Homo sapiens: one gene and its partner. The protein of the gene in region 1 interacts with the protein of each later gene in a pairwise test. Each region holds a gene or a part of one and is shown on either strand. Other genes may lie near its edges. The genes, in order: ZNF317 and ASXL1.

Region 1 (3,818 bases):
GAATAGAGAATGATTCTCAAAGAAAATAGACACCACATTTTCGTGAGACTCTAAGACTGAAGTGCATTTACTGGATTCACTGACACGGGAGTAAATTGTATTTTCTGTGAGGATGGGGATGATGGTAGTGGATGCTGGGTGTACTGAATTGGGAGATGGTGAATGTAGACTGCTCCTAAGTTTTTGCTCGGAAGGGGGCACTAAGGGGAGCCAGGGCAGGCATTGGTTTCAAGATGGGATAGACCTGAGCATGTGTCCATGCATAGGAAATTGTCTAGCAGGGCGAGAAATGAGGCTGAAAGTAAAGGAGAGCCAGGTAGTGCGAGGGTCCAGAGACGGGGATGGGCCTGGAGCAGATTTGAAAGGATTGCCTTGAGAAGGGAGGGCAGACATCTCTTTGTCATAGAAGGAAAGGAGGAGGTCATAGATCAGTTGTGAGAAGACTGTTTAAATAACTAGAAGCAAGAAGGTAAGAAAGCCTCATTTTTTTTCTTTCTTTTAAGCAGGGTTTAATATATGTTCAAGAAAATGCATAGGTCTTACTTAGGTGATCAGTTTGAATTTTTGACAATTGTGTACACTGTACATCTGAAAATAGGTAAGTTTCTATCATCCTAGAAAGTTCCCTTTGCTTCTTTCAGTCTATCCCTGTCTTATCCTCCATTGAAGAAACCCCCTTTTTTTTTTCAATTCTATCAACTTAATTACGTTTTGCCTATTCATGGACATTATATTGTTGGAATCAGAGCGTTTCTTGTGTGTCCAGTTTCTTTTGGCCAGCATCGTAGGGATTTCTCCATGTAGTGTGTCTGCATAGTTTCTTTTTATTGCTGAGTAGTATTCCATTCTGTAAACATTGCAATTTGTATATCCATTCTCTGGTTGATAGATGTTTAGATTGTTTACAGTATTTGGCTATTAGGAATCAGACTACTACAGACATTTTTGTACGAGTCTTTGTGGATATAAATTGTTTACAGTTTCTCTTATATAAATATCTAGGAGCAGAATTGTTGGATCAGATAGTCAGTGTGCTTGTTAAAAACTGCCAAAGTGTTTTCCAAAGTAGTTGAACTATTTCACACTCCTACCATCAGGATATGAGAGGTGCCAGTGTGCCCCAAACTCAGCAGCATTTAGTATTGGTAGTCTTTTTTATTTTGGCTGTTCTAGTTTTAATTTGCATTTCTCTAATGACTATGATATTCAACACCATTCGATGTGATTCTTACTGGTTTTGTGAAATGTCTGTTTATTAATTAAAGTCTTTTACCCTTTTTGTTGGGTTGATTTTCTTTCTTTCTTTCTGTTTTGAAGGAGTTCTTTTTATTTTTTCCAATAAGCCTTTTGCACTCCTATCTAGGAGTTCTTTAATCTGAATACGAATTCTTTTTCAGGTGTATGCATTGCAGATATTTTTTTCCCAATCCGTGGTTCACTGTTCATTTTCCTTTTTTCTTTTTCTTTTTTTGTTTTTAGAGACAGAATCTTACTCTATTGCCCAGGCTGGAGTGCATGATGGTAGCTCACTGCAGCTGTTCTCTATGAATTTTTAAGTTTCTGATTCATCTCAAAAGATGTTTAAATTCAAATTCAGTGAGTGGAGGAGGTGGCAGAAGCATAGGTGGCCGCGAATCTCTAAAGTGAGAGTTGATGTGAGAAGGTTGCACAGGAGACTTTGCCCAGAGAGCAGATTTCCAAATCATTGCCTGTGAGGTGAGGCTGATTCTAGTGATGATGCAGTCCAGGCCATGGCCCAAGGGTGTATATGTTGGTGTGGAGTGTGGGTGCAAAGGGCATTGGAGTTTGGAACTCATGGTTGATCCTGGGTGGACCATCTTCATGGATAGAGCCATCCTAAATGATCGCAGGCCTCGAAGGTGAAGGAAGAGCAGAAGTCTAGGACCAGAGTGTTTAATGAGTGAGGGGGTTTAACAGAGTTGTACTTGGTGGAAAATCACTTAGGAAGAGTAATTCTGAACCCACTTATAGCAGATCAGGGGCTGTCCCCCCACCACATCACCACATTGCTGAGAGAGTTTACCTAAGTAAGATAAAAGTCCAGGATCAGGCAGATCTTGCTGCTCAAAAGAGGAAATGCCAAAAAACAAAACTCAGAGTTTTCTTTGGTGAGCAGGAGAGACAGATAGCCTTTCACTACTCCCGATGTTCTTTCATTTGCTACAGATGCCAGCTTGGAGAGTCACGTGAGAGCAAGAGAGTAGCTTTCTGGTTGTCCTGGTGCCCTGCTCAGGCAAACTGACTGCCATTCTCTGAGGATGGCAGCTCTGTCCCCCACATTTGGTAAGTTCTTGGGTCAGTGCGTGCCCTGAGAAAGTGAGTGCAAGTGGCCCCTGCCACTTGATGGGGTGAAAGATACGTACACCATAGAGGGCTGCTGGGAGAGGATGGGCAAGTGGAAAAGGGGTGGGAACAGAGCCCCAGCAGCCACCCCAGTGACTGTGTCTGCTGAGGGTCTTGGTGGGTCTGGGAGCAGGCCAGTGTCCTTATCATTCATGCATGAAGAGGGTGCAGGTAATGGGTAACCCTGAGTTATCTCATTTATTATTTTGATCACTTTCAGCAAGGTCACAACTCTAGCTCTCAGAACTTGCATTTCTTCACTCCTAGGTTGGAACTATGTCACTTCTTATGAGTATGTAGCCCACCACCCTCTTTATGTTTTTGGTGGAACAGGGCTGCTCTGACTTGTTATGAAACTGATGTGTGCAAGAGAGGTGGGGGGAGGAAGAGAGAGAGAGGATTGAGGATGTGAACACTCAGAATCAGTGTGGAGCAGTTTCCTGGTTTACAAGTGTTGTATTATGAGACAGGGCAGGCTCTGATTCTCATGAACCCTGTTTTCTCCTCCAGCCACGTCCACCCAGGATTCCACCTGTCTCCAGGACTCAGAATTTCCTGTTTCTTCAAAAGACCATTCCTGTCCCCAGAATTTGGACCTGTTCGTGTGCAGTGGTCTGGAGCCTCACACACCCAGTGTTGGTTCCCAGGTGCACTAAGATCTCTGGGTCCCTAGAGCAGGAGAGGCACTTCCTGGAAGACCCCACCAGTGCATGCTGGAATTCTTGCAGAGCTTCATCTCAGCCAGTGGATGCCAGAACAGGGCCCAAGAGAGAGCCAAGGAATATTGGGGCTGTCCTGGTGTTGGGGAAGTTAGGGGAAGTGATTTATGTAGCATCTGTTTCCCTCATGCTTGCAAAATCTCAGGCCCTTGCTCAGCCCCAGAGACGGGGGGAAATAAAGGGCAAAGCTCTCGGAGTGGGCTAGAACTGGAGGGAGATTAGTCCCTTGTCAGGGTTGCATCTGAAGTGACGGCACAGGACAAGATGGCCTCAATGGGGAGAGAGGATGTCTGAGGACTGATGCCTGGAGGAAATGTTGAGCCCCGTAGCAGGCCATCTGGAAATCCTGTGTTGGGTCTCTCATGCCCGGTCTTCAACCTCAGCCATCTTACCATGAACATCGTTAGGCTGGTTCCTCGCTGACCCCAAGTTTGTGTGGCGTTCCAGGAATCGGTGACTTTCCAAGATGTCGCTGTGGACTTTACCGAGAAGGAGTGGCCCTTGCTGGATTCTTCTCAGAGAAAACTGTACAAAGATGTAATGCTGGAGAACTACAGCAACCTCACTTCACTGGGTAAGGCCAGTGCCATTTCTCCACTTATTCATCCATGAATTAGATGTTTTTGTTTGAGTATGTTCTGTGACCCAGGAACTATGCAGCGGTTCAGAACGCAGCTGTGAACAAGCAGCCCCAGCACCCATGCTTAATGGGGCCTCTCCTGGGTATCGAGGCCC
Region 2 (3,818 bases), on another chromosome or scaffold:
GATTTGTAAACAGTACTTGGTTTCCCCAGACTCTAGGACCTAGAGGAAGGAAATTTTGATTTAGCTCTTGGTAAAGCATTTAACACCTAATTTTTCTTTTTCATTGTTATTTTCTTGATCACAGAAAACAATACATGTTAATAGTAGAAAATACCCACAATTGAAAAGAATATAAAGCACTTACTAAAACTCTACCACCTAGGCTAGGTACGGTGGCTCACACCTGTAATCCCAGTACTTTGGGAGGCTGAGGTGGGTGGATCACCTGAGGTCAGGATTTCAAGACCATCCTGGCCAACATGGTGAAACCCCATATCTACTAAAACTACAAAAATTAGCTGGGCGTGGTGGCAGCCACCTGTAATCCCAGCTGCTCGGGAGGCTGAGGCAGGAAAATCGCTTGAACCCAGGAGGAGGAGGTTGCAGTGAGCCGAGATCATGCCGCTGCACTCCATCCTGGGTGACAGAGCGAGACTCTTGTCTCAAAAAACAAACAAAAAAACTGCCACCTAGAGATGGTGGTGGCCAACAGCTTAGTAAGAATTTCTCTTGCATTTTTCTATGCAAACACATTCAAATTTTCATTTTTTAAAAAAGATGATAGAATCATACTGTATGAATTTAATTGCCTAATTAAGCTTGTGTATCATCGTTTCTCTTGTCATTAAATGCTGTACAGCTTTCTTTTAAATGGCTATCTGTGGTAGTGTTCCTTGAAGGAAATACCTTAAAATTTTTTGTTTTTAAACTTTTATAATTGTGGGAATGTAATACAGTGAATGCATAGGACACAAATGTTCAGCTTAAGGAATTATTATAAAGTGAACACCCTGTAACTGCCACTTAGATCACGACATCAAATATGGCCAGCAGCCAGGCGCACCTCCCCTACCCCCCACTGCCCCTTCCCAGTCACAGCCCCATTCTTCCAGCTGAAGGTAACTTCTGTCTTGACTTTATGAAAGTTATTTTCTTGCTTTCCTTTAGATTACCTACCCGTCTTTGCATTCCTAATGCTGTAGTTTAGTTGAGCTTATTTTGAACTTTTCACAAACGGAATCATCAACTATGCATTATTTTGTATCTGGCTTTCATTCACTATTTTGTTTTTAATATTCATCTATGTCGTTAGTAGCTATAGTTCATTCATTTTTTGTTGCTGTATAATCATCCATTTATTGAATGTACTACAATTTGATTCTGCCTTTGGCAGCCACTTTGATTGTTTATAATCCAGATTTCAAATGCTGCATCATGAACATGTGGGTTGTGATTTGTGTAGATGTGCATGTACTTCTCTAAGGAATCCAAGCCTAGGAGGGACGTTGCTGGGTCAGAGGATGTTTGTATCTTCAACTGTACCAGATAAGGCCAAATTGTATTCTCAAATGCTTGGATCTGTTTTCAGTGTACTTGTTCTACTCCTAATTAACACTACTTGATATTGTCAAACTTTAATTGTAGCCATTCTGATGGATGTGGTAGTATCTCATTGCGGTTTTAATTTGCATTATTTTGCATTTTCCTTATTGTTAGTGAGATTAAATACCCTTTTATATGTTTTGGCTACTTCAGTATCCTCTTGTGCAGTGCCTAATTCACATCTTTTATTTTTCTTCTGAGTTGCCTTTTGCCCATTGATTTATATTTGTTCCCCCTCTCTCCCCGCCCCCAAGAAGGAGTCTGGCTCTGTCACCCAGGCTGGAGTACAGTGGCACAATCTTGGCTCACTAACCTCTGCCTCCTTCGTTCAAGTGATTCTCCTGCCTCAGCCTCCCAAGTAGCTGGGACTGCAGGTGTGCGCCACCACGCCCAGCTAATTTTTGTATTTTTAGTAGAGACAGGGTTTCACCATGTTGACCAGGCTTGTCTTGAACCCCTGACCTCAAGTGATCCATCCGCCTTGGCCTCCCAAAGTACTGGGATTACAGGTGCAAGCCACCATGCCCGGCCTGATTTATAAATGTAGTCTAAATACAAGTTCTTTATTGGTTATGTAAGTTGCAGATATCTTTTTCAGCTCTGTAGGTAATAATGTTTTTTGATGAATAGGAGGTCTTAATTTTAATGTAGTTTAATTGATTTGTTTTCTCCTTTGTAAGAATCAATATTTTTCATGTCCTGTGTAAATCTCGTATTGGGATAAAAGATACATATATATTTTTTAGGTTTTGGCTAATAGTTTTCCGTTGGCAGCATGTGAACCTTTTTATGCCATTTTTACTTTCATCAAGGGTGTATGTATGATTTTCTCATACTCTTGTCAGAACTGGAGATTTGGGGTAACTTTGCCAGTGTAATAGACTTTCTTAATTCATTAAGGAGTATTTTATCTTAGTTTGCCCATGAGAGAAGAGAGATTAAATTTGTTTTATTATACCAAGAACATGGCAGTCAATAAGCATAACTAAAAATATTATTTAGCTTTTGATTCTGAAGACCATGTATGGCCAGTAAGGAAAAGAGGTAAAGATGTAGAAAACTGTTTTCTTTTTTTTCTTTCTTTTTTTTTTTTTTTTTTTTTTTTGAGATGGAGTCTTGCTCTGTCGCCAGGCTGGAGTGCAGTGGCGTAATCTCAGCTCACTGCATCCTCCACCTCCTGGGTTCAAGTGATTCCCCTGCCTTAGCCTCCCGAGTAGCTGGTACTACAGGCGCGTGCCACCACACCTGGCTAATTTTTTGTATTTTAGTAGAAACAGGGTTTCACCGTGTTGGCCAGGATGGTCTCAATCTCCTGACCTCGTGATCCACCTGCCTCAGCCTCCCAAAGTGCTGGGATTACAGGTGTGAGTGAGCCACTGCACCTGGCCTCTTTTTTATTAATTTAAGATACATGATTTTGGCTAAAACTAATGAAAATAAATTGATGAAACTTCAATGTAGTGGATCAAGAGACTCATGAAATTGATGAGTTAGATTGTTGTGGGCACCTGTTTTAAATTTATGGTGCCTTTTTAGCAGAATCATGACTTTATCAACTCTTTTTCACATACTTTTATTCAAAGAAGACATTCTCCTCCTCTGCCCCAACTTATCTTCTTCTTGTCTCCAACTGCCAGTATTCTCATCCACACTCTTTGTAGTTTTGAGGTGTGAGATAACTCCCAAGTTCTTCTTGGGAATGGGTAGAGTTTAATTCTGAGTCTACATGTCGTGAGTCTATTGGAAGAAGCTTTTCTTAGGAGGTGAAATTTGGGATGGAGTTCTCCTCTACACTCTAGCCCTGTAGCCACAATCTTTGGTTTAGATCTTTGGCATTTTTTGTTGGACATCTTTCATAGTGTCTACCTCTTCTTCCTGCCTCTAGGCTTCCCGCGGTTGCCAGATGAAATTCCGAAAACTCAAATCATTCCTGTAGTTAATATTCTTCAGTGACTCCGGAACAATCAAATTCTTGATCCCTCCACATGGGTCTTACCATCTGCCCTCGTGCCCTCTCTAGCTTCCTGCATATTGAGTTCCCCACAGCCCTAGTTTCCCTGAGTTTGGAATATTCTTTCACATTTGCTCATCCCACTATCTAGAAACTTCCTACAATCTCTCTACTGCCAACCTGTCTGTCTAGTTGCTAATTTATTTTAAAACCCAGCTTAAGCAACACATCCTTTTGGATGTGTTACTTCCCTGATCGTTATTCACCTCCATGCCGTCTTTCGCTCAACTCATTGAAGTTAGGTGCCCCTCTTCTGGGCTGCCACGGCTCTCCATGTTCACCTATGTACTGTACTTTGTATTGTAATCAGTTTAATTGACCCCCCTACTTATTTGAGCTCCTTGAGAGCAGGGCCTTGATTCCTGCTCCTTAGCACTCCACCCTC

The links.
Region 2: the proteins of ZNF317 (region 1) and ASXL1 interact in a two-hybrid assay, tested with the Homo sapiens proteins (one large-scale study listed by BioGRID).

What each region holds. Positions count from the first base shown.
Region 1 is NC_000019.10:9,153,738-9,157,555, forward strand, and holds part of ZNF317 (zinc finger protein 317), read left to right. Parts: intron 1-2,187; 5' UTR 2,188-2,279; coding exon 2,280-2,304; intron 2,305-2,874; coding exon 2,875-3,011; exon of another isoform or gene 3,012-3,530; coding exon 3,531-3,657; intron 3,658-3,818. UniProt on the Homo sapiens protein: May function as a transcription factor. May play an important role in erythroid maturation and lymphoid proliferation.
Region 2 is NC_000020.11:32,424,052-32,427,869, forward strand, and holds part of ASXL1 (polycomb group protein ASXL1), read left to right. Parts: intron 1-3,818.